Homo sapiens: one gene and its partner. The protein of the gene in region 1 purifies or fractionates together with the protein of each later gene. This does not show direct contact. Each region holds a gene or a part of one and is shown on either strand. Other genes may lie near its edges.

The links.
Region 2: the proteins of SEH1L (region 1) and NUP133 purify together in Homo sapiens (affinity purification with mass spectrometry; 4 studies listed by BioGRID and IntAct, with this or other methods). This does not show direct contact.

Annotation. Positions count from the first base shown.
Region 1 is NC_000018.10:12,974,738-12,990,384, reverse strand, and holds the end of SEH1L (nucleoporin SEH1), read right to left. Parts: intron 14,653-15,647; exon of another isoform or gene 14,503-14,652; intron 11,634-14,502; coding exon 11,493-11,633; exon of another isoform or gene 11,492-11,492; intron 7,868-11,491; coding exon 7,710-7,867; intron 6,346-7,709; coding exon 6,195-6,345; intron 5,146-6,194; coding exon of another isoform or gene 5,133-5,145; exon of another isoform or gene 3,524-5,132; coding exon 3,328-3,523; 3' UTR 2,854-3,327; downstream 1-2,853. UniProt on the Homo sapiens protein: Component of the Nup107-160 subcomplex of the nuclear pore complex (NPC). The Nup107-160 subcomplex is required for the assembly of a functional NPC.
Region 2 is NC_000001.11:229,461,002-229,476,648, reverse strand, and holds part of NUP133 (nuclear pore complex protein Nup133), read left to right. Parts: intron 1-916; coding exon 917-1,011; intron 1,012-5,844; coding exon 5,845-6,069; intron 6,070-9,892; coding exon 9,893-10,015; intron 10,016-11,129; coding exon 11,130-11,229; intron 11,230-11,773; coding exon 11,774-12,025; intron 12,026-12,972; coding exon 12,973-13,106; intron 13,107-15,647. UniProt on the Homo sapiens protein: Involved in poly(A)+ RNA transport. Involved in nephrogenesis.

The DNA of each region.
Region 1 (15,647 bases):
CTCTCTACCCAAACACACACACCACACACCCATACACCACACACACCACTCACACCACAAACCACACACACCCACATATGCACCACACACACGTGTGTGACACGTATACACACATCCATACACAACACACACCCACATACACATCACCCACACACCACACACACCCTCCACACACAAACACCACTCAAACCACACACCCACACACACCCCTTCCTTGATTCTGTTTCATCACCTAATGACCATTCTTGTTTCCTTCCCTTAATGGTCTCCACTTTTTTTTCCATAGAGGAAGCCAGGCTTCCACTTTTTACACCTTATTTTGACGCATTTCATGGTGTCTAGCTGGGTCCTTAAAACTTTATCAGGAATAGACTCCTAATTGTCAAACTCAGTGATATCTCCACAGTTCGACACCTCTTCTTGGAACCCTGCAGCCTTGGTATTTGCAAAGAGTAATTACCTTTATTCTACCTTTGTCCACACTCAGTGAGCAAAGATAAATGCAGAAAATCTCAAGATTTTCTGAATCCCAAAAAAGTAAGCCAAATGCTCAGCCCTAGAGCTGACCTCTCTTAACCTCTTTTTCTACAAAGCGGTCACACATTGGAGGTGAACTGCTTAAATGTGTCTACAGGTTCCGGACTGTCACTCACACCAGATCCTTGTTAATAAATGTCCTTCCTCCATAAATATCCTCAAGTCACCACAGCACTCCCCACAACACTCAGTAACCTGATAGGACTCTATTAACAGAGATCTCTGATTCAGAGTCTCGGCAGCAGGAGAGCCTGGACTCTGACGCCAGGCTGCCTGGATCTGAATCCTGGCTCTACCTCCCTCTTCCAAACTGTGTAGCCTTGGGCAAGTAGCTTTAACCAGCCGGTTTCCTTGTCTGTAAAGTGGGGATAATTAAAGCGCTTGCCTCAGAGGCTTACTGTGAGGATTTAAAGCTACTTCTGTAAGGTATCTAGAAAAATAATGGCCCATGGAAATACTCAACAAACATTAGCTATTATCTTATACCTCAGTATCTCACCTCACTTGCCAACTGGAAAGGAGGAACAGAACTCCCACTGTGATTTCCAAATCTCTTTAGACACTGAGTAGAGCCTGCAGAGGCCCCATGACCAGGGTGCCTCCCAGGGAATTAGAAGTGAGGCCTATCCAGTTTTAAGTTCAGACATCTCTCAGCTCCCCTTTTACCAACTGCTTAAAGTGGTATGCCTCAGCCAATACTCAAAACCTTCTACAATGTAACCACAAGGTATGATTTCAGGTTAATGTCCCAGTAGTTCCCTAAATGAACCCTACTCTTTCATCAGACTGTTACTTATATCCTATTCCGTAAACACACCCCGGCCCTCTTTTACCTATTGAAATCAGACATCCCTTCCAAATTCTGCCAGCTCAAATAACTTGTCTCTTTTATGCCTACTATACAATTTCTACCATTATTACAAAGCTGAACCCATTACCTTTTGTAAATTCTAAAAATGCCTTCTCCCACGAGTGTAAGTTTGTGTGCAGACTACCTATTTTTCTACATACCCCAGTGTTTGGCACAGTATCTTGCACATGGTAGATGCTCAGGATTCACTAAATTAAACTGGAGAATGGTCTCAATTTCATTATTCCATTCTTACCCAAGGTACCTCTATGTCTGAAAGCTCAAAGACATGGCTTCTTAATTCTGGGTTAGATTCAGCATTAAGACTTCTTGTTTGATCCTCCATAAGGCTACAAGCCTAGCAAGTCATTTAACCAGAGGAAGACCTTTGAGAATTATTTGAAAAAGATATTTACATTGAAATGCTAACTTTAGAGACAAAACACTTTGATTATTAGACAATAAAACTCAAATGTTCCTTAAACTAAAATGAATAGGCTAGGTGAGGTGACTCATGCCTGTAATCCCAGCACTTTGGGAGGCCAAGGTGGGATGATGGATTGAGCCTAGGAGTTTGAGACCAGCCTGGGCAAAAAGTGAGACCCCTCACTAAAAAAAAATTTTAAAAAAATAGCCAGGGCATGGTGGCGTGCACCAGCAGTCCCAGCTACTCAAGAGACTGAGGTGGGGGGATCGCTTGAGCCCGGAAGTTCAAGGCTGCAGTGAGCCATGATCATGCCACTACACTCTAGCCTGGGCAACAGGGTGAGACACTGTCTTAAAAAATAAAAAATAAAATAAAATGAACAGAATCTTTCTATCAGCTCTTAATCCTTTGCATATTAAGAAGTACTAGAGCTATGACACTATTCAAGGAAAGGCGTCTTTGAAAATTAGAATAGTTATAATAACTATGTCACCTATGTGATTACCTGATATTTCATGTAATCTGTTACATGAAATACTGTTCAAAACACCTCTCTCTCTAGCCCTGATAAGAGGTTAAACCCTTGACAATTCCTGACAAAACTGAACCAACAAGCATATTACTAGTTTTAATCATTTTACCACAATTATAATCAAGTACATTCTCATTTTAAAATATTCTAGAAAATATTCTAATGTTGACTAATTAGACTGAAAGTCAACATCTGTCCATTCTAAATGTTAGTAGTCTACATACTGACTTTCTACCTTTTAAATAAATGTAATATTTGCTCACATCTCCTAATTTTTGTTTGGGTTTTTTGTGAGATAGTGAAAGAAGAGTAAGCCTTGGCAATTATCTTAAATAAAATACATTCTGTTTTTATAAGGCAAGAGATTCGTATATTTTTAAATATATTTTATTACATAACCTACTTGGATAATAATTACAAAAGCTTTAAACAGTAATTCCAAGTAGTGAAAGGCAATTTCCTTTAAAAAAAAAAAAAAAAAAAAAAGACCAAAAAGTCCACATTAGGTTTTGCTGCTTTATACACAGGAATGATTTATTTTACATACTAGTCAGTTACAACATTAGCCTGTAAAATGAAATCCATTTTTTAAGGTCTCATAAGGCAGAATAAACTTCATAATATTATGCTTTCACATTAGCCAGTCTGATAAAGCATAAACAACTTAAGACTATGGTAACAGTTTAAAATAAAATTTACAGAACAGGCACTTTGAAGTCAGCTACTGTGTGTAACTTCACAGTTAACGTTACTTGGACATATCTCATTTCATCAAAGGTTATCACCCAGTGAAGCAAATGTTCCTTTGATGCAGACGCACAAACAGATTTAGGTTCCAAACACTGTATTCTGGTTGTAATACATGCAAGACAGACCCTAAGTTAGAAAAATCTTCTGAAAGAAAATGAAAAACAAAAAGCAGCCAGAAATGAAAGCATTTACAAGCACTTGAATAAGGCCTTTCAATGTTAAATCAGTGTTTTAAATCCCTTCATTCTCAGGTAAGGGATTAAGAGGCCGAGAGAGATATCGTCTGCGAGGGTGAGGATACTGGAGGTTGGCAGTGTCAGCATCGCAAGAGTGCTCTACCAGAGGAGGAGGAGGAGGAGGAAGGAGCTGGGCATAACTGGACCATCTCGATCCAGCCCGTGGGGAATCCAGAGGGGTAAAGAAATACCTGAAACAATGAAGACAGGAACAAAACACCAAACAAAACAAAAACAGGAAAAAAAAAACACAAGAAAAAGAGAAAAGTAGTAAATACAAAGAGAACCAAAGAGGAGAAAACACATGCTAGAAAAAAAAAAAAAAGCTTTAGTATATTCATGCCAAAACTAACAGAACATAATAGCACAAATCAAGACCCTTACTCAAATCAAGATTGCTTAAGCAAGTATAGAAACTTGAAAGGAATACAATCTGTTAAACTTAAAATGTTAAAAAATATATATAAATGTTACAAAGAAAAACATTAATTTTATAAATTCAAAACATTTTCTAATCTCTCAGAAACATCTGATGCTATTCTGTACATTTACAGATCTAGTTAAGTTTTTTATCTTAAGCAATGGTTCACTCACAGCAGCAGCAAGCACACATTTTTTTTAGTGCGTACATGATACTGGGAATACACATAGTATGGCTGGCTACTGCAACATGCTTTTGAAGAACTACAAACATTGAACACTTATTTTTCTGCAAAAGCCTTAGAATAGCTACCAAATTTTGATAAGTAAAAGGATTCACAGAATGACTGTGCCCTACTGTTATTCTTCTTCCATCTTGTAACTTACCGATAATACTTACGCATATTAGCAAACTTAAATATTTATAGCTTTGTTATCAAGGTCAGAACTTTACAGGACATGAATTAATTTAAACAGCGAACTAAATTAAGAAAATCTTGAGACATGGAATGCTGACAATTAATTTACATGCACAATTTTAGTAAAATTTTAATGGCTTCTCTTAATAGTGTGTGTCCAAATTTTGATTTGAAGGAAGCTAAGCCATGGAATAAATAACACCATAAAAATACACAAATGTATATAAGAAACATTTATCTCTTTAGTGACTATGAATTAAAAACTTATAAAAAAAGTGTTTCCATCTTAGTCCCAAATTGTAAATGAAACAATACCAAATGCTTAACCTGGCTACAAACTGTACAGTCAAGTTCCTTTCATTTTACTATTACTACTTTATTAATTCACTCCTTTACTAATATTTTTTAAATATTACAAAGAAATGACAGAGTTGTACTGAATATCATGGATAAAGCAAATCTACAAAAAGTAAACAAATCAGCACTCAAAACAATCTTTATAAAAAATATTTATTCAATCTTCAAATTAAAATTATAAAAGTTCATCATTTTAAGCTGTTTTAAGAAAGCAAAAGAAATATGTCTATATTTTCCAAATGAACTAAAGTGGTATTCCCCTCCTCCCAACTACTCAGATAAGAATGGTAACAACCCTTTTAATCTTTAAACCCAAATTAGTTTCAGGAACATTTCAAAAAATTGTTTTGGTGACAATGTCTCAACAGAAAGCCTCTCCGTTTATATTTCAAAAGTTTCAAATAGTGTCAATAAACTGACTAGTACAAAAAATATACACTGTATTTTTAAAGGCCTTTTGGATTGCGTTTAGTAGTAAGCAGGCTGCTGGTGTATCTTGGGAGAGGTCAAACGGCGCTGGGGAAGGGGAAAAGGAGCTCGCTTTCCATTCCTGTGTGCATGCAACAAGCAGCAAAACAGCAAAGTTACTCCAGTTAGCTTGTACTCAGCTGTGCTTTCTGTTAAAGGACATAATACAAATGGAAAAGGGAAAATGCATCACAGATCTAACACAGATGGTTATTGGCACAATAAGAATACAGATCAAAAAATAGAAGCTATTTACAAAAGAAAATATGCAGTACAGGCAGTGACCAAAAACCAGACTTTAAAAAATCAACTCTAATATTATTTGTTTCATGAAATAATCTTTATAATCTGGTATCTTCCACGGTAACCTGAAATTGTTTTGATGCATGTACTTAAAACCTCAAAATCAAAAGCAGAACTTCTTTATGAAAACATAACAATATAAAAATAGTTGAAATTTTAAATACAATTTTCTTCTTTTATATAGGATAACAAGAGGATATAACCACAGGACAATTCATTAGGCTGTGTTTTGACGTTTCCTGAATTCTATTCCAAATTATTCACAAAGGCATATTAAAATAATTTTATCTTACAAATTCACATATTTAAAATTTGAACATGGAAACAGACTCTAGATGACATCAAATATTCCTTATTATGATATACAAGAATGTAACATATGCTAAATATTCTAAAAATCAATCTCGTGTTTTATTATTTCCTCTTATTTCTATTAAAGTTTTAAACACAAAAGCCAAATAACTTAATGTACCCTCTTCTAGAAAGCCTTAAGAAATGTATTTTATTTAAAATTTCAGTTTGACCTAATGCAAAGACCACACTACAAGCACTAAAAAACACTAATGTTCATTTGGACTAAAACTCTCACCATTAAACCAGATAACCTTCCTCTCACTGTTGCGGAAGCAAAGTTGAATCTTAAACCTGTAAACATTTCTACCAATAGACCACTAAAGCTTCAGAATATAATGTAATGACTTCATAACCTACCTGCAAATATTATGACCAAGTAAGCCAAATACATAGCTAACAAAATGAATTCTTAAATGCTAATACAAGCACATGTGAACATTTCCACTCCATCTTATAATCCATGAAATAATCCACCTTAAGTATGGCTACCAGAATGATTTAAAACAAAGATGATTTCCAGTTTTCCCATGAAGCAGCCTACCTGCCAGCAGAAGATCCATTTAATGAATTCTGAAGACTTGGAATAGTTGAACCTAGGGAAGGATTTGAGGTTCCCTGCTGAGAACTCCCATTGACTGGGCTCCCATTACCTTTCAAAATACCAGTACACTTCCAATTGTCCATATAATTAGCTGAAAGGAAAATAATCAAATACATTAACATGATTAATACCAATGCCTAAGGGCACAAATCTGTACCCATGTCCTTAAACTACAATTAAAGAAACGAGACAGAGGCTATGAGCTACATTTCTTTCAGGATAAACATTAAAGACACTTTTTAAATGAAAGACATATTATCTCAGTTTTAACAACTTTTTAGAAGTTTTCAAAGTATCACTAATTTTAAAAATATAAAGCTTTCACCACCCATCTTACAGATACTAGCAAAGACAATTCTCTGAGCTACCACATTATGAAGTTAATATTAAAATCTTCATTATAATATTAAAGTCTTCATTATAATGAATTTCACTTACATATGTATGTAAGGTAATGAAGTTGTCTTCTTAATTATGCAAGTATAAGTTATAAGGGTACCTATCATGTCTTCTGAAATGGATGTAGGTAACAAAACCTTTGGAGCTTCAGTGGCTTATCCAAAATGGCCTTATTAGTTTGAATGAAAAATTGGTCTCTGAAGACAATGAGCCCAAGAAAATCAAGTTAGGCACCCTGCTGGGGAGCATGGCAAGGTGGTCCTGAATAAAGCCTAAAGGCAGAAAAGGACAGCAAAGCCCCTAAAATCAAATTACACTGAGGAAAGGAAGGTCTGGGCTGGTTTTACCAAAGCCCAAAATTGAACATGGGAGGCCCTCAAGCTTACCCAAACTGCACTTTGGGAAACAATAACTGCTAAATGGCAAATAAACAAAGATAGCTATAATTCTGAATGCTAAGTATGGGACACCATTCTATGGTGGTGCACAAATCACAGACATCTCTGCCTAATGGATAATCATCCAAGGAGAAGTGCAGAACCAAGCTACAGAGACCACAGTCAGTGTCAACTGACCAGACCTTCTCACTCAGCCTGGCACTTAGAAGAAACTTACAATCAGGGCCCCCAAGGCTCTTAACTTATGGGAGCTGCAGAGAAGAAGCAGGGAAGATACTGGATTTTCTCCTATTAAGGATGGATTGTCTAAAGCAATTTATTTGATAAAAAAGGAGCCACTACAGTCCTAGCCTGAGTTTGTAGAGCAGTCATGTAAGGTACATATATGACAACTGGTATCTTTTTATTGGAGATATTGCATATTCTGTTGTAATTACTTTAGTTTTGAAAACTGCTCTGTTCCACATAACTTAAAAAACAATTCAGTCATTAACTTCTATGAACTAGGTAAACTGATGTTCAAAATAACATAAATTAATATGACATTAAAAGTAACTGTAAAAGACCATTTTCAAAAAATATTTCAGAGTTTACATTTTAAGTAAAAATTGCAGAGCAGAAATATAAACCAACAATTACCCCTTCACTGAACTCTTACCTTTCCACAATCTTACACACCCATCATCTCCTGAAGATGCTAGCACCGTTCCTGTTATATTCCAACTCACTCGCCAGACCTGAGAATTATGATTATCGAACTGAGCCACTATATGGATTTCAAACTTTGTTGGCCCACCAGAGGAAGTCAGTTCTTTCCTGTTAATAAAAAACATTTTCTGAGGCATTCCAAACAAAGTTTTAAAACATATATATATACACACACATATATATATACACACGTAAAATTCTAAATTAATACAAGTGGTCTCGCCACCACATCACTTTATAATAATGTGCACATCTGCCCAAACCCCACACCTTGGCCCTTGAGCTGGGCCAATGTCATTTTCATTTAACTCGCCAAGACCTGGAGTGATCCCAGCACATAAATGATACTCAGTGACTGTTTCATGGAAGAAAGAAACAACAAAACAGGATGATTTTATTCTCCCACACAAGGCAGAAGAATAAAATAGATGACAATAATTAATTTAAAAAGGCAGGGCAAGGCCAGGTGCAGTTGCTCACACCTGTAATCGCAGCACTTTGGGAGGCCAAGGTGGACAGATCACTTGAGGCCAGGAGTTCAAGACCAGCCTGGCCAACATGGCGAAACCCCATCCCTACTAAAAATACAAAATAAAAAATTAGCCAGGCATGGTGGCGGGCGCCTGTAGTCCCAGCTACTCAGGAGGCTGAGGCATGAGAATTGCTTGAACCTGGGAGGTGGAGGTTGCAGTGAGCCAAGATCAAGCCACTGCCCTCCAGCCTGGGCAACGGAGTGAGACCTTGCCTCAAAAAAAAAAAAAAAAAAAAAAAAAAATGGGCAGGGCAGCAAGTAGGAAAGAATGAAAGAATGGAAAGAAAAGAACTGAAATTCACAATTCAAAATTAAAGTTAAATATGTTATTCACAAGACTGTCTCAATACTAATTTAGTTTTCCCTAAATAGACTGCCACTTGTCATTAAATATTTATAGATTATCAGTTATATTTGGAGAATTGTTAGTTTCAGCCTAAATAAAGCACAGTTAAGAGAATATAAATCTGCTCTTGACTCAATTCCCCTTTCCAAAAAGACATATATTTATATATAAAATGTTCATTAAATAATCCATTCTTCAAAAATGACATTAATTTAAAAGTAACTGTAGGTGTTGGCCGGGCTGGTCTCCAGCTCCTAACCGCGAGTGATCCGCCAGCCTCGGCCTCCCGAGGTGCCGGGATGGCAGACGGAGTTGCATTCACTCAGTGCTCAATGGTGCCCAGGCTGGAGTGCAGTGGCGTGATCTCGGCTCGCTACAACCTCCACCTCCCAGCTGCCTGCCTTGGCCCCCCAAAGTGCCGAGATTGCAGCCTCTGCCCGGCCGCCACCCCGTCTGGGAAGTGAGGAGCGTCTCTGCCTGGCCACCCATCGTCTGGGATGTGAGGAGCCTCTCTGCCTGGCTGCCCAGTCTGGAAAGTGAGGAGCGTCTCTGCCCGGCCGCCATCCCATCTAGGAAGTGAGGAGCGTCTCTGCCCGGCCGCCCATCATCTGAGATGTGGGGAGCATCTCTGCCCGGCCGCCCTGTCTGAGAAGTGAGGAGACCCTCTGCCTGGCAACCGCCCCGTCTGAGAAGTGAGAAGCCCCTCCGCCCGGCAGCCACACCGTCTGAGAAGTGAGGAGCCCCTCCGCCCGGCAGCCACCCCGTCTGGGAAGTGAGGAGCATCTCCGCCCGGCAGCCACCCCGTCCGGGAGGGAGGTGGGGGTCAGCCCCCCGCCCGGCCAGCCGCCCCGTCCGGAAGGGAGGTGGGGGGGGTCAGCCCCCCGCCCGGCCAGCCGCCCCGTCCGGAAGGGAAGTGGGGGGGTCAGCCCCCCGCCCGGCCAGCCGCCCCGTCCGGGAGGTGAGGGGCGCCTCTGCCCGGCCGCCCCTACTGGGAAGTGAGGAGCCCCTCTGCCCGGCCAGCCGCCCCGTCCGGGAGGGAAGTGGGGGGTGTCAGCCCCCCGCCCTGCCAGCCACCCTGTCTGGGAGGTGAGGGGCGCCTCTGCCCGGCCGCCCCTACTGGGAAGAGAGGAGCCCCTCTGCCCGGCCAGCTGCCCCGTCCGGGAGGGAGGTGGGGGGGTCAGCCCCCCGCCCGGCCAGCCGCCCCGTCCGGGAGGGAGGTGGGGGGGTCAGCCCCCCGCCCGGCCAGCCGCCCCGTCCGGGAGGGAGGTTGGGGGATCAGCCCCCCGCCCGGCCAGCCGCCCCGTCCGGGAGGGAGGTTGGGGGGTCAGCCCCCCGCCCGGCCAGCCGCCCCGTCCGGGAGGGAGGTGGGGGGGTCAGCCCCCCGCCCTGCCAGCCGCCCTGTCCGGGAGGTGAGGGGCGCCTCTGCCCGGCCGCCCCTACTGGGAAGTGAGGAGCCCCTCTGCCCGGCCAGCCGCCCCGACCGGGAGGGAGGTGGGGGGGCCAGCCGCCCCGTCCGGGAGGGAGGTGGGGGGGTCAGCCCCCCGCCCGGCCAGCCGCCCCATCCGGGAGGTGAGGGGTGCCTCTGCCCGGCCGCCCCTACTGGGAAGTGAGGAGCCCCTCTGCCCGGACAGCCGCCCTGTCCGGGAGGGAGGTGGGGGGGGGTCAGCCCCCCGCCCGGCCAGCCGCCCCGTCCAGGAGGGAGGTGGGGGGGTCAGCCGCCCGTCCGGGAGGGAGGTGGGGGGGTCAGCCCCGCGCCCGGCCAGCCGCCCCGTCCGGGAGGTGAGGGGCACCTCTGCCCGGCCGCCCCTACTGGGAAGTGAGGAGCCCCTCTGCCCGGCCAGCCGCCCCGTCCGCGAAGGAGGTGGGGGGGTCAGCCCCCCGCCCGGCCAGCCGCCCCATTCGGGAGGTGAGGGGTGCCTCTGCCCGGCCGCCCCTACTGGGAAGTGAGGAGCCCCTCTGCCCGGACAGCCGCCCCGTCCGGGAGGGAGGTGGGGGGGTCAGCCCCCCGCCCGGCCAGCCGCCCCGTCCGGGAGGGAGGTGGGGGGGTCAGCCCCCCGCCCAGCCAGCCACCCCGTCCGGGAGGTGAGGGGCGCCTCTGCCCGGCCGCCCCTACTGGGAAGTGAGGAGCCCCTCTGCCCAGCCACCACCCCGTCTGGGAGGTGTACTCAACAGCTCATTGAGAACAGGCCATGATGACAATGGTGGTTTTGTGGAATAGAAAGCGGGGAAAGGTGGGGAAAAGATTGAGAAATCGGATGGTTGCCGTGTCTGTGTAGAAAGAAGTAGACATGGGAGACTTTTCATTTTGTTCTATACTAAGAAAAATTCTTCTGCCTTGGGATCCTGTTGATCTGTGACCTTACCCCCAACCCTGTGCTCTCTGAAACATGTGCTGTGTCCACTCAGGGTTGAATGGATTAAGGGTGGTGCAAGATGTGCTTTGTTAAACAGATGCTTGAAGGCAGCATGCTCGTTAAGAGTCATCGCCACTCCCTAATCTCAAGTACCCAGGGACACAAACACTGCAGAAGGCCGCAGGGTCCTCTGCCTAGGAAAACCAGAGACCTTTGTTCACTTGTTTATCTGCTGACCTTCCCTCCACTATTGTCCTATGACCCTGCCAAATCCCCCTCTGGGAGAAACACCCAAGAATGATCAATAAAAAAAAAAAGAAAGAAAAAAAAGTAACTGTAAAAGACCATTTTTAAAAAACATTTCAAAGTTTACATTTTTAAGTAAAACTTCCAGAGCAGAAATATAAACCAAATCATAGTTACCTCTACTCTCTCCTCCACAAACAAAGGTAATCAGAAGGCAAGAGTATTTTCAAATTCATAAATGCTTCTAAAACTCACCTCACAGGCTTTAATGTAAAAATTCTCACATCTTTGGTCGCTATTGCTAGAATATGGAAAGATCTTCCCAAATTTGGAGCGAATGCAATATCATGAACAGGATCAGTGACTGTCATAAGAGTTTCAGCTTTTGCATATTTCCTAATGGAAAAACAATTGACATTAACATTTTAGAAATAAAATGTGCAAAAATCCACACATCACTGCATCTCACCTTTTTTTCACACTGCTCACAATCATGTAGTGCTCACCTCTGTAGTGGGCTCAACAGCAGCCCCCAAAAGAATATGTCCAAGTCCTGACCCCCAGACCCTGTGAATGTGACCTTATTCAAAAATAGCGTCTTTGAAAATGTAATTAAGGACCTCAGAATGACATCCGAGATTTAGGGTGGGTCCTAAATCCAACGTGCAGTAAGTATTCTTTAAAAAGAAGAGAAGAAACGCAGAGACAGAGAGGAGGCAGCCATGTGAACACAGAGGCAGAGATTGGAGTTATGCTGCCACAAGCCAAAGAACTCCCGGAGCCAGCAGGAGCTGGACTAGACCAGGAAGGATTCTAGAGGAAGCACAGCCCCAACACCTTGATTTCAGACTTCCGACCTCCAGAACTGTGAGTGAATACATTTCTGTGTTAAGCCACCTGATTTGTGGTAATTTGTTATGGCAGCCCTAGGAAATTAATACAACCTCCCACGTTTCCTCCTTTAATAATGTACATTTAGCTCGAAACGCTTTAATAAAAATTTAATTACAATAAGGTCTTGGCTGGCCACAGTGGCTCACACCTGTAATCCCAGCATTTTGAGAGGCTGAGGTGGGAGAATTGCTTGAACCCAGTAGTTCAAGACCAGCCTGCGCAACACAGCAAGACCCCATCTTTACAAAAAATACAGAAATAGCTGGGCATGGTGGTGCACACCCATTGTCCCAGCTACTCAGGAGGCTGAGGTGGGAGGATGGCTTGAGCCCAGGAGGCGGAGGTTGCAGTGAGCTGAGATTACGCCACTGCACTCCAGCCTGGGCAACACAGTAAGACTCAACTGCAAAAATAAAAAATAAAAAAGGGCTTGATTTATTAGCCACTAACATCTTTCTTAGGAAAAGAGTAACACATTGCCTAAGTATTTGAATGTAAATAAAAAAGTAAAGCTGGTAACAGGAATTGAGGTTTTTTTGAGACAGTTTCACTCTTGTGCTGGAGTGCAATGGCGCAATCTTGGCTCACTGAAACCTCCGCCTCCTGAGTTCAAGTGATTCTCGTGCTTCAGCCTCCTGAGTAGCTGGGATTACAAGCGTGCACCACTACGCCTGGCTAATTTTGTATTTTTAGTAGAGACAGGGTTTCACCATGTTGGTCAGGCTGGTCTTGAACTCCTGACCTCAGGTGATCCACCCGCCTCTGCCTCCCAAAGTGCTAGGATTACAGGTGTGAGCCACTGCGCCCAGCAGGAATTGAGTTAAGTGATAATAAAAGGAAACTATGCAAAGGCTATTTCATCCTTGCAATTCTATTTCTTTATCTATAAATACAGAATAAGAGGATAATGAAGGCAGTGGTAGATCAGAGTTTTCTACTAGGTTCTTCTAAGATTGAATATCCTGGACAGAACGGCAGCACCTAACCCCCTGCATGTAGGAGACTGGGTGGAGACATCTCCCCATCCCACCTTTCTACAGCATTCTTCACTTGACCTTCTTTTCATCCCAACATTCTTCCTAAAATCTCTACCAAGCTGGTACACACCTCAAGGTTCTCTCCTTGATCTTTCTCACCCATCCAATCACCCTAAGCAATCTCATCCACATCCTTGCTTCTACTGTGTGGTCTGCAGCAGCCTGGGAGCTTCTGGGAAATCCAGAATCTCAGCCCCCTCCTGGGGCCTACACAATCAGAATATGCTTTTTTTTTTTTTTTGAGACAGAGTCTGGCTCTGTCGCCCAGGCTGGAGTGCAGTGGTGTGATCTCGGCTCACTGCAAGCTCCGCCTCCCAGGTTCATGCCATTCTCCTGCCTCAGCCTCCGGAGTAGCTGGGACTACAGGGGCCTGCCACCACGCCCGGCCAATGTTTTTTGTTTTTTTTGTATTTTTTAGTAGAGACAGGGTTTCACCATGTTAGCCAGGATGGTCTCGATCTTCTGACCTCGTGATCTGCCCACCTCGGCCTCCCAAAGTGCTGGGATTCAGGCGTGAGCCACTGCGCCCGGCCAGAATATGCATGGTTTCTACACCCATGGTTTCAGTACCTATAAACCAATAATTCCTAAATCTATCCCCTGCAATTCAGGGGATAGATTCTGGCCTTCTACCAAAGGCCAGAAATAGGACAGGTGGAGCTAAGAGCACACATGCTGCAGCCAGAACGTGTTTGAATCCAGGCTGTAACGACCTTCAGCAAGTTCTCCGTAAAGTGGGAGGAACACCCGTACTGTGGCAGAGAGATTCTAAGTGCCCCCATGACCCGCACCTCCTGGTGGTCCCGCCCTTGTGGAGGCTCCTCCCCATGAGTGTGAGTGGGGCCCGTGGCTTGTTTTCTACCCAGGGGACGGAACATGGCAAGGTGGTGGGACAACACCCGTGTGACTACAACACACAAGCCTGTGACGCCTGCCTCATGAGAAGACTCTCCTGCTTTCAGGCCTTGCAGAAGCAGCTGCCATGCTGTGAGGACACAAGGGAGGGTCTCGTGGCAGGAACACGAGTGCTGCCAACAACCAGGTGAGCTCCGAAGTGGAGTCTTTCCCAGTCTGGCCTGACTCTTGACCCACAGACATTGAAATACCGAATCTGTACTGTTTCAGCCACTGAGTGATAATGCTGTCATGCAGCAATAGACAACTAATCTCAGCTATTCTATCCATCTGCCTTTACACATCCCCACCTGGATGTTCCAAACGCACCTCAAACATATGTCTGAAATAAATTGTGCTTACCACATTCACTCCTCTTTGCTCAGTCCCCATCTCAACAAGTGGCACTACCATCAGCTAGGTCAGAAACCAAGACTCACGTGACCTACAGCTGGTGCCTCCTAGACAAGTCTCCCCGGTCCCTCTTCATCCCACGCCACAGTGCATGTCCTCATTCCACATCATAGTGGGCTACTGCATTCATCCCTGAGTTCCTGCTCCCAGTCCACACAGCTGCCAAAGTCATCTCCCTAAAAGGTAAATACAACCTTGTGACTCTACTGGACCCTGCAAAAGTCCAAATGCTGCCAGGATAGAGATCAGACTTGGCAAGCACCACTCTCCAAAATCTGCCTGGCCTGTTGGCCTGCCCCTCCCCTGTCTCTCTCCTGCATTAGCCTCCCCACCCACCGCCTCGACCCCACGCCCTTGTCTTTGCTCCTGCCTCCTCTCTGCTTGCAGAACACCCTCTGTCTTTCAAGATTCATGCTCAAACATCATCAGCTGAAACTTCTCACCCTACCAGGCAGGTATGTGCTGCCATCTCTAGCAGGTGACCATCCTCATCCATATCCTAGGCGCTGTAAGCTCCTTCAGCTCTTAGTACAGTCCATGCTGCTTATGAAATGTTGAAAAAGTGAGATTTTTTTTTTCTTACCTGAGGCAAGCTATATATTGTAATTAATTAAGGTGGCTGGGCACGGTGGCTCACGCCTGTAATCCCAACACTTTGGGAGGCCGAAGCAGGCAGATCACCTGAGGTCGACAGTTCGAGACCAGCCTGACCAACATGGAGAAACCCCATCTCTACTAAAACTACAAAATTAGCTGGGTGTGGTGGCACATGCCTGTGATCCCAGCTACTTGGGAGGCTGAGGCAGGAGAACTTCTTGAACCCAGGGGGCGGAGGTTACGGTGAGCCGAGATCACACCATTGCACTCCAACCTGGGCAACAAGAGTGAAACTTCATCTCAAAAAAAAAAATAAAATAAAAATAAAAATAATTAAGGTTATCTAAAGCTTCTCCTATCAGAAGGAGCCAAATAAGATCCTCAATGAGAGTGTAAATAAAGAGAATGAACAAAAAAGACTTTGTTTCTGGTCCTGACTCTGGACCTTAGACTAGTCATTCACTCTGTTGGTCTCAGTTTTCTCATTTGTAAAACAGTGTTAATAAAAGCTGTCTCCTCTACTTACAAGGTGGTTGGTAGGATTCAAACTTCATAACACACATAAAAATGCCCG
Region 2 (15,647 bases), on another chromosome or scaffold:
CCCAGCCTACTTACCCCCAAATTAAATGATAATTTTGGCATAATCAGTATATTTGACTAATAGAAATGATCCATTCCCCTAAGAGCAGCAGTGATCAAATGTCAATATGTAGAAGTGGACAAGACATGTCTAGCTGCCTGTCCCAGGTGACTGCCCCTCTTACTCTTACTTCCACCTCAGAAACTCGAGGGGAACTCTGGGGTCCCCAGATACCAGGGAACTGTCTCAAACATGTTTCTCTCCCTAATTATCCTACTTCTTAGCAAGTTCACTAAGCTCCATTAGAGATTTAGGAAGAAAACATGAGAGCTCATCTCCTTTCTTTGACTGTTTTTGTTGGCACTGTCAAGCTTAAATTGTTACAAATGATTAAACTAAAAACGTATTTTGCATTTTGAATAAATACAGTATGAATTGTATCAAACCTCCAAAATTTACTCTTAAATTTTTAAAACTCCTGAGTAACGTTATAAACAACTGTATTGTAAGGTTGATATTTTTATTTTGTATAGACTTTTTTTTTTTTTCCCTTTTCTTTTTTGAGACCGAGTCTCGCTCTGTCGCCAGGCTGGAATGCAGTGGCGCAATCTCGGCTCACTGCAACTTCCACCTCCCCGGGTTCAAGCAATTCTCTTGCCTCAGCCTCCTGAGTAGCTGGGACTACAGGCATGCGCCACCACGCTCAGCTAATTTTTGTATTTTTAGTAGAGATCGGGTTTCACCATGTTTGCCAGGATGGTCTCGATCTCTTGACCTCGTGATCTGCCCACCTCGACCTCCCAAAGTGCTCGGATTACAGGTGTGAGCCACCGTGCCTAGCCTTAGCTTTTTATTTTAATAGCAGTTAGCCACTGATATTAAAATAGTATAGTTGTAAAACCACTATGTTCTAAGTTTTATCACTGTGTTTTAACAGAAGCACCTGGGTTCAGCAATACGTCACTGATTATCCTTCACCAGCTAGAAGACAAGATGAAAGCTCACTCTTTTCTTATGGACTTTATTCATCAAGTAAGAGCGCAGGGTGCTGGGCACAGGGCTCTGCCTTTGGCAGTCTCTCCAACACAGTGGGAAGTCTCTTCTCTCTATTTTGAGGTGTTTCATTGGGTGGGGCATGACTGGTGTTTTCCATTGTCTCTGCTGATTTAAAAGTCCGTAATTCCAGGGCTGTGTACAAGCCTGTTAATCCAGGTATAAGAAGCAGGACTTCATTCAGATTTCCCGTGTGCGTTTGTGTAAGAACTTAAGTTTTCATGAGTCGATTTTGTATTTGACAGATTTTTATGTATGACTTTTAATTTTGAGGTGCCATTAGAATCAAATCCTCATTGAAAGTATTCCTTTTCTTTTTTTGGGTAAAGGTTATCCTCACATATATTGTGCCTAAATTAGAAAATGTTTTGCTACTGGACAGAATTGTTACATAAATTCACTCATTCTTGTCTCGTCAATAAAAGTGGCTTGCAGACATATTACGTAGCCAAATGAATGAATTTCAACCTGCTTGGGGTTTTGTTTGTTTGTTTTATTTATTTATTTATTTATTTATTGAGACAGGGCACTCTGTTGCCCAGTCTGGAGTGTAGTGGCACAGTCTTGGCTCACTGCAGCCTTGACCTCCTAGGCTCAAGCAGTCCTCTCACAGCCTCCTGGGTAGCTGGGACTACAGGTTTGTGCCACCATGCCCATATAATTTTTTTTCAGTTTTTGTAGAGACAGAATCTTACTACGTTGCCCAGGCTGGTCTCGAACTCCTGGGCTCAAGAAATCACTGCACTTCAGCCTCCCAAGGTGCTGAGGTTACAGGCATGAGCTACCAGGCCCAGTCTCTTCCCTGATTGTTTTTCAAACTCAGTAGTGCCTACTCACTACCACACCCGGCTAATTTTTTATGTTAAGGAGATTCTAGTGAGTGCTGTCCAATCCATTGCTTTCTGTGATCATGGGAATGTTCTCCTAGTGTGATGTCTAGTGGGACAGCTGCTGGCCACATGTGACCTGAACAGTTGAAATGTGACTAGCAACTGAAGAACTGAATTTTAACTTACTTAAATAGCCACTGTGGACAGTGGCTACCTTATTGGACAGTGCAGCACTAGATAATTTCAGAAATGACTTGATTGTTCCTAATCCCACATTCTTTTTCAATTTTGTGCATGGTTTATCTCCTGTCTACTCTTTTATTTTCTTGGCAAGAAAACTCCAATCATTCATTGAGTCTCTCTTTTTTTGTTATTGTTATTTTAGGTGGGATATGGATTAATGAGGAAAAAACATATTTTCTCCCGATATGGTCGTTTAATTAGCCAAGTGTATCAGTTAACTATTACTGCCATATAAACCACCCCAAAACACAGTGGCTTAAAACAATTCTGTGGGTTAATCAGGCAGTTCTTCTGTTGGTTTCACCCGGAATCACTCGACCTGCATTTAGGATGCACTGAGCTGGAGGGTCTGCAAGCCTCTTCCCGCTTTCTGGCAGTTGGTTCCAACTGTCAACAGAGGCTATGTGGTTCTCCTCCATTTAGTCGCTCATCCTGCTCTGGGCTGGACTGGCTTCCTGTGGTCTTAACAGATGAACATAGAAGCTGTAGGCTTCTTAAGGGCTCATCTCAGATGTCACATAATGTTACTTCCAGTAAAGTGACATTGGTCAAAGCAAGTCACAAGGACAGCTGGGATGAAAAATTAAAGAATTTATTATACCTCTTTTTTTGTATGTGTGTGACAGGGTTTCACTCCCATCGCCCAGGCTGGAGTACAGTGGCGCAATCTCAGCTCACTGCAACCTTTGCCTCCTGGGCTCAAGTGATTCTCCTGCCCCAGCCTCCCCAGTAGCTGGGACTACAGGCGCATGGTGCTGAACCTGGCTAATTTTGTGTATTTTTTGTGGAGAACGGGTTTTGCCATATTGCCCAGGCTAGTTTCGAACTCTTAAGCTCAAGTGATCGCCTGCCTCTGCCTCCCAAAGTGCTGCGATTACAGGTGTGAGCCACTGTGCCCAGTGTGATTGTACCTCTCGATGGGAAGAGTGGCAAAGTCATTCTCATTGGAAGAGGATATGCATACTGGGCCGGCAGGACCTTGCCCTGACCTGATTCGCCACACTAAAAGCATGGATTTATCAGAGGCCCGAAAGCCATGAGAGCATGAGCACTCTTGTCTCAGCCTTCCTGGGTTCCAGAGAACCCTCACGAAGTTCCACGGCTGCTGGTAGCAGTATCTGTCCTAAGGCAATGTCTAGCTAGTTCTGAAAACCCCATTCCAGCCATGCCTTTTATGTTTCTATTTCCTTTAATATTTAGAGCTCATTTAACTAATGAGGAAGAATTTATGTTGATAATTAGGAAAAAGGTATAACTAGATACTAAGGAAAGTTTTTTTTGTGTGTTTTTTGTTTGGATACAGGGTCTCTGTTGCCCAAGGTGGAGTGCAGTGGCACGATCGCAGCTCACTGCAGGCTTGACCTCCTGGGCTCAAGCAATCTTCTCACCACTGCCTCCCCAATAGATGGGACCACAGGCACTCACTACCACGCCCGGCTAATTTTTTTATTTGCTGTAGAGACAGGGTCTCATAATGTTGCCCAGGCTGGTCTCAAATTCCTGGCCTCAAGTGATCCTCTTGCCTAGGCTTCCCAAAGTGCTGGGATTACAAGCCTGAGCCACTGCACCCAGCCCTAGGGAATATTTCTGAATACAGAGAAATATTCCTTTTCTCCTTGAGCCAAACTTGGCATCTGCAGGGCCATATCCTCATTCTGAAGGGGGTGGAAGTAACACCAACACTTCAGAACAGTACCCTTGCCTCTAGTTTTCTGATGTTGAGGGAAGCCTCTGTGTTCATACATTGTGTTTCCATACCTTACAGAAGCAGGGAGGTAATCTGATCATATTCACTGTGTGACTAGAATGATTGTACATATATATATATATATATATGTATATTTAGTTTTTTAATTTTTTTGAGACAGGGTCTCACTCTGTCACCCAGGCTGGAGTGCAGTGGCATGATCATAGCTCACTGTAGCTACAGCCTGTCCGGGCTCAGGTGATCTTCCCATCTCAGCCTCCCAAGTAGCTGGGACTACAGGCATGTGCCACCAAATCAGCTACTTTTTGTATTTTTTGTACACATTACCCAGGTGATCGCCTGCTTCTGCCTCCCAAAGTGCTGGGATTACAGGTGTGAGCCACTGTGCCTGGCCTAGAATAGTTTTAATCTAGAGCCATTGCTTCACTGTCAGTGCTGCAATCAAAGCAAAGTAAAGCAGGCAATTGGGATGACCTTGCATGAAAACTCCACCTAGATTTTTTTTTTTTTTTTTTTTGAGACGGAGTCTCGCTCTGTCGCCCAGGCTGGAGTGCAGTGGCGCAATCTCTGCTCACTGCAAGCTCCGCTTCCCTGGTTCATGCCATTCTCCTGCCTCAGCCTCCCAAGTAGCTGGGACTACAGGCGCCTGCCACCACGCCCGGCTAATTTTTTGTATTTTTAGTAGAGACGGGGTTTCACTGTTTCAGCCAGGATGGTCTCGATCTCCTGAACTCGTGATCCGCCCGCCTCGGCCTCCCAAAGTGCTGGGATTACAGGCATGAGCCATCACGCCTGGCCGATTACACCTAAAATATTTTTGAGGGAACCAGGAAATAAATTCAAGTCAGGAAAGACCATGTAACTCTTATTTTAAAATAATAAGGTGAACAGGTTAAATACATTAGGATTCAGTGAATTATTAACCAGTCATTAAAAATAAGAATATCTAAATGTGTTATAAAAAATAAGATACTATCAAAACAAGGTACAGAACAATATATACAGTGTGACCCCTTTTGTGTTATAAAAAGATATCTCCTAGCATGTAAATACTACAAAAGCATATAGAAAATGAAGGATAAGAAAATCAGGTCACTTATTAACGAAAGAGAATTATACTTAAAATGTGAAAAAGTATTCATTATTTATGCCTGTCTTTTGGCTCTTTCCTAGTTCAGGTTATTGTAATGTCATATGCAATGAGAAAGCTTAGGAAAACCCCTAGAAGATCATAACACAGGACAGATGGGCACCAAGCAACTCAGTAGAAGATGCAAAGGGTTAGAGACACCCCCACCCTCCCAGCAGCATTAGGGGTATGGAAATCAGTCCTTGAAGGTGGAGGTTGCTGAGTTTCTGATTTCTGAAAGTCTGGAACCTAGGGGAGTTAATTGATACAGCTAGTAAAGGGCAGTGTGAAGCCAGGTGCAGTGGTTCACACCTGTAATTCCAGTGCTTTGAGAGGCCGAGTCAGTAGGCTCGCTTGTGGCCAGGAGATCTTGTGGCCAAGATCAGCCTGGGCAACATAGTGAGACCCCATCTCTACAAAAATAAAGTGTAAAAATTATCCTGTTGTGGTGGCGTGCTGCTTGGGAGGCTGAGGTGGAAGATGGCTTGAGCTGAGGGTTTAAGGTTAGGGTGACCTGTGATTGTGATTGTACCACTGCACTCCAGCCTGGGCGACAGAGCAAAACCCTGTCTCAAAAAAGACGAAAAGAGCAGTGTGACTGTTTTGATAACCATAAACAATAATTTGGGAAACATGATATGCAGAGACAGTAGTAGTGGACAGAAGCCCTGGAGTGACCCTGTTCTTAGAACAGGAATATCTACATTTCCTTGTGGGTGTTAATGGCCTGGCTGAAGTGTCTGTGTGTTAGAAACAGTTAAAACAAGAGACAGCTGGAGGGACTTGCTGGGGGAAAGCTGGGGCCAGTGACTGCCCAGGGTGCTTCTGGGGAAAATACAGCTATGGTATTTTGCATGTTACCATAATTGCTTTCTGAGAATATGTGTTTGCCTTTTTGCAAGGTTGGCTTATTTGGACGTCTAGGCAGTTTTCCAGTTAGAGGGACACCGATGGCCACTCGACTGTTGCTCTGTGAGCATGCCGAAAAGCTGTCAGCCGCCATTGTTCTCAAGAACCACCACTCCCGGCTTTCTGACCTTGTCAACACAGCCATATTGATTGCTTTGAACAAGAGGGAGTATGAAATCCCATCCAACCTGACTCCTGCAGATGTCTTTTTCAGGGAGGTAAGATGAGTCCTCTTTCATGTGGCTTTGTAGAACTGTGCCATTTAGTGATCATGCCCTAGGCAGGAAAGACGGTGAGGACGAGTTAAATCACAAAAGATCTCACTGAAATTTTAAATTGGACTCCAGATTTTCTGGCTAGAGTGTCACTCAGAAGTCTCATTGATCAGTTACCTGTAAAGAAGAGTTTGCAAAGTTGACTAAGAAGTGCTCCCTGTTTACTTTTTTCCCCCAATAACTGTCTCCAAGTACCTATTTGCTTTGCATGCTGATCTTCTTTTTTTTTTTTTTTGAGATGGAGTCTCACTCTGTTGCCCGGGTTCCAGTGATTCTCCTACCTCAGCCTCCCGAGTAGCTGGGATTACAGGTGCTAGCCACCACCCCGGCTAATTTTCATATTTTTAGTAGAGATGGGGTTTGATGTCGAACTCCTGACCTCAGGTGATCCACTCGCCTCAGCCTCCCAAAGTGCTGGGATTACAGGCGTGAGCTACTGCATCCATCCTGATCTTCTCCTTTGTCTCTCTCGATCTACTCTTTTTTCTGGGGGCAGGGGGCACTAAGTCTTGCTCTGTTGCCAGGCTGGAGTGCAACAGTGCAATGTCGGCTCACTGCAACCTCTGCCTCCTGGCTTCAAGCAATTCTCCTGCCTCAGCCTCCCAAGTAGCTGGGACTACAGGCATGTGCCACCATGCCCAGCTAATTTTTGTATTTTTAGTAGAGACCTGGTTTCACCCTTGTTGGCCAGGCAGATCTACTCTTGACTCTGCCACAGCAAGGTGGCCTTCCTGAATGGGCTCCCTTGCCCTCCGGCTTCTGCCAGGTCAGATGAATGTGAGGCCCTGCCATAAGGCCAGAAGTTGGAGTAGTTATTCTGCCAGCTTTCTTCCTTGCCTGTGCGCACTTTACATTGGCTGTGCCCCTCTGTCAGGGACTGTGCCTCCTGTCCAACTGCTTTCTCTGTGTTTCCAGTAGCTGCCCCCTCCTTGTGCCTCTTCAGGCCTGAGGTTGATAATGCCTCATCCTAGGGTGCTGCCCCATCCCTTTTTGGACCCCTTAATCTTGCCCACACCTTTGCAAACAGTACCTTCACTGAACTCCTCAGCTACCTCCTAGGATCCTGTTGCTACACCTTGCTTGTAGAATCAGATTTATTTTCAGAGAAAAAGTAAAGTCTGCTACAAACTTCAAAGACAGAAATGGTTAAGATGCTGGGCAGCCAGTGGCAGCTGGACATTGTGGAAATAGTGACGCAGTCCTCGTGCTTTTGTGAAGCTTCACAGCCTGATGAGGCAGCAAGGCAGACTTCGCTGTCTCCCTTTAAAGGTGTGACATTAGAACTTAGACCTGTTGTCTTAACTGAGACTGCAGAACTATCTGGTTTTAGAAACAGGGCCAGCTCTTCCCTGAGCTCTGTGAAATTTGGAATTCCTTATGCATTTGAGGAACTTCAAACTCTATTTGGTGTCTCAAATTTTGCTTCCTTCCTCCTATAGCCTAGCTGTATTCTAACATGTAGCACACTGTGCCGACAAGTCTCTTTTTCTTAATGTTTGATGTACTGTAACCTAAGTTTGATGTACTATAACCTAAATTCAGTCTTCCTGTTGATTCCATAAATGTGTTTAGTGTGAATTCTTTGCTTTTATGCATTTGGGTTAGTTCCTGGGGAATGGAAGGAAAAGCACTTTGTTATGTTTTGTTTTTAATCTAGACAGTATGCCAGAAATCTGAAAGAAAAACAAATCACCTCAAGTTTCATGATCTAACAAATCAAGTTGTTGTCATTTTTGTGTCCTTTTTGGTCTTTATTCATATATAATTTTATATGATAAGACAATTTTTTAAAATTAATTACAGACTACTTGTAAGAACTGAGCAAGAGCCTGGTTCATTATTCTGCATTTGGATCAAAGGGCAAAGTATAAGTGTCAATTTAGTGTATGTACATGTTTCAGTTAGCTGAATTATTGGAGAAGGGTCTGGAAATTATCAGTTGGATACATATAGAATAATATTTTAGGAATATGATACAGCAAAACTAAAAATGTGATTGGCTCCTCAAAAGAATGTTCCATATGAAAAATGGTAATGTTTAGGACTGTTCCTGTCACTATTTATCTTCATTTCTCATGATGTTCGTTGGTCTTTAGCTTCTCTGGGGTGTAGTTATAAAGGTTTTCTCCCGTGTCATAATGATCATGAAAAGAGAATACAATAGCTATATGCATATAGTAGTTTTTCTTTCTTTTTACCTGTCCTTCCACTTGGGGGTGACAAGTTACCTGTCTAAGGAGTATTTGTGTTTTGGGACGAGCTGGTTAACCAAAATCAATCTCTGATTGGTGGGCCATATAGAACGATATTTTGACTTGGCAGCCCTGATAGAAAGTAAAACAATACAGAGCTGCCTGAGGGTGCGCTCTCCACTTTGACTCTGTCTCCAGTTTGGGAAGGCCTTGTACCTCCCAGGGCTCTGGAAAAGCAGAGCTCACTGCTTAAGGAACAGACTATGTTGACACGGCATATGAGCAATATTTGAAATCACTGAATATATACATGATAAGAGAATTTAACAAGTGTTTTGGCATTTTATGTGCTTTTATGTTATTTTCTGTCTTTTATATTATATATGCTTTCCTTTTTTTTTTTTTTTGAGACTGAGTCTTGCTCTGTCGCCAGGCTGGAGTGCAGTGACACAATCTCTGCTCACCGCAGCCTCGGCCTCCTTGGTTCAAGCAATTCTCCTGCCTCAGCCTCCCAAGTAGCCGGGACTCCAGGTGCACGCCACGACGCCCAGCTAATTTTTGTATTTTTAGTGGAGACAGGGTTTCACCATGTTTTCCAGGATGGTCTTGATCTCTTGACCTTGTGATCCACCCACCTCCAAAGTGCTGGGATTGCAGGCATGAGCCACCGCACCCGGCCATTATATAGGCTTTCATTGTGTTTTTCATGTTAACAATGTAAAATATTCTTACACTTAAGCTTATAAATTAAATGTGCTAAAGATTTCTTGCCTGGGCTGTTAGGATGCCTTTGGCTAACATCAGAAATGCAAAAGGAAGAACAAGGTTTGCAAAAGGGAGGGATTTTGTTTGGGTCATGTTTTATCTGTGCCTATATAACTTGTTCCTTCAGCCAGTTTGTGAGGTCCTTGAGGGCAGCTAATCTGATTTTTCTTTCCTCTTATCTCTGAGTGTCCATTGCTATGCAAACTCTAAATAATGGGGGGAAAGCTTAAGTGCAGACTTGAACTTGAAACAGGAGTTTCAGTGCCTGATGGTATTTTTGCACTGTTATCTCCATGTATTAATTAATGACAAAGGAAGAGTTAGAAGTTATGTATTTAGTTCATTCTCTTATGTTGCTTACTTCTGTTCTACAAATGTTTCTGTTATGTCTGAAGAAGGGGAATTCCTCAAAGAAAGAAATTAGCAAGTTCACTTTTTGAGGTCATTATTTTAGTCTATTAGTTCATTAGTTTGGGGTATTACATTGTAAAGTGATGTCATCTGTAACCTAGTGCTATTTAAAGATGCACTGAGCAGAGTAGCTATAATAAAAAATATCATCGCTTAAAAATCTCAGTAACAATCCAGAATTTGCCTGTTTATAAGACTTATTTGGGCACTCTGACTTTTAAAAGTTAGGAGATGTGACTTTTCTTGATTTTTGAATTTATTTTTACCATCAACTGCCAATAAATTTTCCTCCATCTATAGGTCTGAGGATATGGCTTAATGAGTAAAACTCACTGGGTAGTTGTTACCCATCACCATAATTTTTGTTGTAAGTAGTTTACTTCTGTGTATTCTCTCAGGTATCCCAAGTAGATACCATCTGTGAGTGCTTACTGGAGCATGAGGAGCAAGTCTTGAGGGATGCACCTATGGATTCCATTGAATGGGCTGAAGTGGTGATCAATGTGAACAATATTCTCAAGGTACAAAAATATAGTAAAGGCTTCAGCAAATCAAAGCCCAGGGCATGGATAGACAAGGAACTGGTTTCCATGTTCCTACTCTGTATTGCCGATAATGTATAAGGTTGTAGACATTTGTTAATCCCAAAAAAGTTAGAAAAATGTCATTTTATTATTAATCAGCTAATGAGTATTTTGAATGTTAGCCTGGTGCCTATTAATAAATTTCTATAATCTTGAGTTTCTATTTGGTAGAATAATAAACCTTTCATTTGGGAAGATGTGTTTGTATCTTTGCAATTTTTTAGTTGGTTTTTTTTCTGAGAGAAGGTCTCACTGTCACCCAAGCTGGAGTGCAGTGGCACCATCATAGCTCACTGTAACCTTGAACTCTGGGCTCACGACTTCCTCCTGCCTCAACCTCCAAGAGTGTTGGGATTACAGAACTGAGACACCATGCCTGATTGCAAACGTATTGTTAATGTAACTGTCTAAATATTTCTCATTTCTATTTTTTTAATTACTCAAAACCTTGCTACTTTTACTATTGACTAAAACGTTCCATTTAATTTTAGCTAGTGGACTTGTAGTAATGATTTTCCTACTTTGCCAAATAATTTTCCTACTATTATTTGCCAAAACTGAAGTTAAATTATGGAGTAAAACAAATTTCAAAAGCAGAAAGAACCAAAAAGTAATCATGCAGATCTGTGCTGACTTTTTTCTCTCATTTTCTTTTCTTTTCTTTTTTTTTTTTTTTTTGTGAGACATGGTCTCACTCCATTGCCCAGGCTGGGTTTATAGTGGCTTGATTATAGCTCACTGCAGCCTCCACCTCCTGGGCTCAAGCAGTCCTCCTGCCTCAGTCTCCCAAGTAGCTGGGACGGTAGGTGCACGCCACGATGCCCAGGTAATTTTAAAAATTTTTTGTACAGATGGGGTCTCACTATGTTGTCAGGCTAGGAGCAATCCTCCTACCTCAGCCTCCCAAAGCACTGGGATTACAGGTGTGAGCCAACATTCCTGGCCCCTGAGTATTTTTTCTTACTAATTTACTTTGCTGTCTTAAATTATCTTCAGAAATACTGTGATCCATCACCTTTTGCATGTGATAACACATTAACTTTTTTTCCAGGATATGCTGCAGGCTGCTAGTCATTATCGCCAAAATAGAAACTCTTTGTATAGAAGAGAAGAATCACTAGAAAAAGAACCTGAATATGTTCCATGGACGGGTAATATACTGATTTATTAACAGTTGTTCAAAATATATTTCTAATGACCCATCATTTTTAGAAGTTGTGTTATTCCCCTAGCGTAGGTTTGTAAGTGAAATGAAAAAGTGCCGTCTCCAAAATGAGCAGCTCTTGTCAAAATCACTTTATTCGTCCCTTGCTCTTATTTATCGATCTCTCTATAATTTATGTATTCAACTGGTACTTATGCATTTACTAGGTTTTAGTTCAAATAGTTATTCATAGAAGCAGTCCTGGCCCCGGAGGTATGGACTATATTTTATGTTGATTTAATACAAGAAAGTAAGTGGAGTAGCATTAAAGGAATTTAGAAGGAAGAAGAGTCATGTTTACCTGGCTTTGCTGAGGAAATCTCCTTGGAGAAGATGGGATTCAAGCAGGGCATTGACAGGTATCACCTGAATCCCTGTTCAATGTAATTTTCCAGCAGTGATGAAGAGGCATAATTTTTATGCTATTAGTCTTTCCTTTAGCCATCACTAGATCCCTTACTTTAACCATATTATTTTGTGTAATTTCACAGCAACAAGTGGTCCTGGTGGCATCCGAACGGTAATAATACGCCAGCATGAGATTGTCCTGAAGGTGGCTTATCCACAGGCAGACAGCAACCTCCGAAACATCGTGACCGAGCAGCTGGTAGCCCTGATCGATTGCTTCCTGGATGGTTATGTTTCTCAGCTTAAGTCTGTGGATAAATCCAGTAATCGGGAAAGATATGACAATCTGGAGATGGAATACCTACAGAAAAGATCAGATCTCTTATCTCCTCTTCGTAAGTTCATGATACTTGGCAAGAGTTTTAAATTTGCTGAATGGATGAAAGGGTTGAATAGTTAATTCAGTATATTCAGTGTGGTAGTGTTAATCCAACTGTAATAAAGAACTTAAAGCAAATATGCACAGCTTTCTGTGCTCATTTATTCAACTTTTTTTCCAGTACTATCTAGGTATAAGTACCATAGATGATACTGAAGACAATTAATAAATACATAAACAAACAACATGTGGAGACTACCCTTAAAGAGCTTAGCATCACAGACCTTTACGTGAATAACTGGATTGCAAAGTAGAGCCTGGTGAGGGCTGCTTGAGGGGTACAGATAAGATATTATGGCTGTTTGGCAAAGGACACATTATACTCCAGGCTAGGACTGGGAAGAGTTTGCTTTACTCTTACATGAAGGAAGAGAATAGCGTTTTGGGGAGGCAGTGATGAAACAAGGGTCTGAATTTGCATCTTTTTTTTTTGTTGAGACAGAGCGTCACTCTCTCGCCCAGGCTGTAGTGCAGTGGTATAATCTCAGCTCACTGCAACCTCCATCTCCCGGGTTCAAACAATTCTCCTGCCTCAGCCTCCCAGGTAGCTGGGATTACAGGCGTGTGCCACCACAACTGGCTAATTTTGTATTTTTGGTAGGGATGGGGTTTCACCATATTGGCCTGGCGGGACTCGAACTCCTGACCTCAGGTGATCCACCCGCCTCAGCCTCCCAAAGTGCTGGGATTACAGGTGTGAGCCACCGCACCTGGCCTGAATTTGCATCTTTAAGAAATTGATGTGAATTGTGAAACTAAGTGCCAGTAAGTGGGAAGGTTTCCATTCCATTAATGATTGTTGGTTTATAATAGGAATAAAGATAAAATTTCAAGTAACATTTTTTATTACAGATTTTAAGTTTTGCTAACAGGATTTTTTCCCATCTTTTCTCATTCCCACAGTTTCACTAGGCCAGTACCTGTGGGCTGCTTCTCTAGCAGAGAAATACTGTGACTTTGATATATTGGTACAAATGTGTGAGCAGACTGACAACCAGAGCCGACTCCAGCGCTACATGACCCAGTTTGCTGATCAGGTGATGAGTGTTGGGTGTGTGGCCACTGAGTCCTTTAGTTGCCTTTTCTTGAAATGGCTTTGCCATTTCAAATCTGTAATCAGGGCTTTTGGAATATGATACGATCTTTTTGTAGTTAACTTTGATGAGAAGATACTAATTTGTATGTCGCGTTTCTTTGTAAATTTTGTCCAGTAGCGAGATCACAGTTCACGACAGCCTCAACCTCCTGGGTCCAATCACTTCTCCCACCTCACCCCCTCCCACACCTCCTGCTTTCCAGTAGATGGGACCACAGGAGCTCGCCACCATGCCTGGCTAATTTTGTTCATTTTTCAGTAGAGACAAAGTCTCGCTATGTTGTCCAGGCTGGTCTCAAACTCCTGGGCTCAAGCGATCCTCCTGCTTCAGCCTCCCAAAGTGCTGGGATAACAGGCATGAGCCATCGCCTGACCACACAATTCTTTATATATAAATATTACTGAAAGATTCTTTGACCTTTGGAAAATATAACTTTCATTTCTGTTTATATATTTTCTAGTTATTATAAAAGTACTTAGGTACATGAATATTGGTAAAGTTCTTAAAAATTGTATAGAAGATACTCGGGAGCATAGAAGACTACTTTAAGAGAGCTTAGCTTTACAAATACACCTAACATTCTCATTTTCCTTGAGGGATATTATGCTTCCTGTTTAAAAAACAAAGTTCCCAGCCAGCCTCAGTGGCTCATGCTGTAATCCCAGCACTTTGAGAGGCCAAGGCGGTAGGATCACTTGAGGCCAGGAGTTTGAGGCCAGCCTGGGCAACATAGACCCTGCCTTTACAAAAAAAATTTTTTTAAAAAACATGCCACCACACGCCCATGGCCACACTTATTCAGGAGGCTAAGGTGGCAGGATCGTTTGAGCCCAGGAGGTCAAGGCCAGTGAGCCAAGATTGTGCCACTACACCACAGCTAGGTGACAGAGGAAGACCTATCTTTAAAAAAAAAAAAAATTTCCATTGTGACACTATCTTAAGTGAATTCAAAGTTGTTGCTTGAAGCCAGTCTATTCAGTCAGTTGATTACTATGAAAAGCTTATTTTTTATTACTGTAAAAGTGATATTGTATAAAATTTAGAAAACCACTATAAACACAAAAGATAAAAATCACTCAAAATGCCACCACCCAGAGAGAACCTTTTAAGCATTTGGTTTATATTTTCAGTCTTTCCACTCTATGTATTATAAACAAACATGTTTTGTCAACTGCTTTTTTCACTTGATACATTGCAAACATTTGTTCATGTCATTAAATATTCTACAGCAGCATTTTTAATGGCATTATAGTATTTCATTGACTGGGTATGACTTACTTCATCAAAGATCAGTTGTTGGGCTGGGCAAGGTGGCTCACGCCTGTAATCCCAGCACTTTGGGAGGCCGAGGTGGGCAGATCACCTGAGGTCAGGAGTTCGAGACCAGCCTGGCCAACATGGCAAAACCCCGTCTCTTCTAAAAATACAAAAATTAGCCAGTCATGGTGGCGTGTGCCTGTAATTCCATCTGTTCTGGAGGTTGAGGCAGGAGAATCCCTTGAACCCAAAAGGAGGAGGTTGCAGTGAGCCAAGATCGTGCCACTGCACTCCAGGCTGGGCAACAGAACAAGAATCCGTCTCAAAAAAAAAAAAAAGGTCAGTAGTTGGACATGGCTTATTTAGTATATCAAAACATTGCTAAATAAATATTTTTTGCACTGATCATGATTTTAAAATTATTTTTATGGATTTTCTTTCTCTTTTCATGCATTTTTGCATTTTTTCTTATATTTAACATGTTTAAATGTTATTTTAAAGTCCTTTTGTGCTTACTCTGATCATCTTTGAGTCTGTTTATGTTGCCTGCTTTTATGTTGCTTGAATCATAGTTTTCTGCTTCCTATATCTGGTAATTTTTAAATTGTATTTTAGACATTGTATATTTTTAAAACTCCATAGTATGGAAATTGATGTTATTTGTCCCCTCGTGGATTTTCCTTTTTCTCTGTTAGGCAATTTAGAGGAGAGGAAGATGACTCAGTTCATTAGGAATAGAGGTGGCCCAGGACTCGGTCTCAGCTCTTGTAATATTCATTTCATTTCTGGTGTCAGAAGTCTTTCATGGCAGGATCCCTGCTTTAGGGAAAGTATCTCTTAAACACTGTGAGACTGTAGAACGTCTTGGTCTTCCTCTCCAGCTCAGCCTCCACACCACCCCAACACTCCACAAACAGCCAGTGGGGAAAACTGGCTGGGCATTTGGGCCTCTCTAGATTTTGATGTATCATGCCAGGCCATGTGGCCAGCTGGCGCAGAATTCTGGAATGTTACAGTCTCGGTGCTGTCCCACAGAGCTTTCTGTGATAATGGAGCTGTTGATAATGCGCTGTCCAAATGGGAGCCACTGGCCACATGGGGCTACTGAGCACTTGAAATGTGGCTAATGTACCTAAGGAACTGAATTTTAAATTTCAAGCTAATTTTTTATTTAAGTTAAACAGCTACGTATGGCCAGTTGCTACCATATTGGCCAGCGCACAT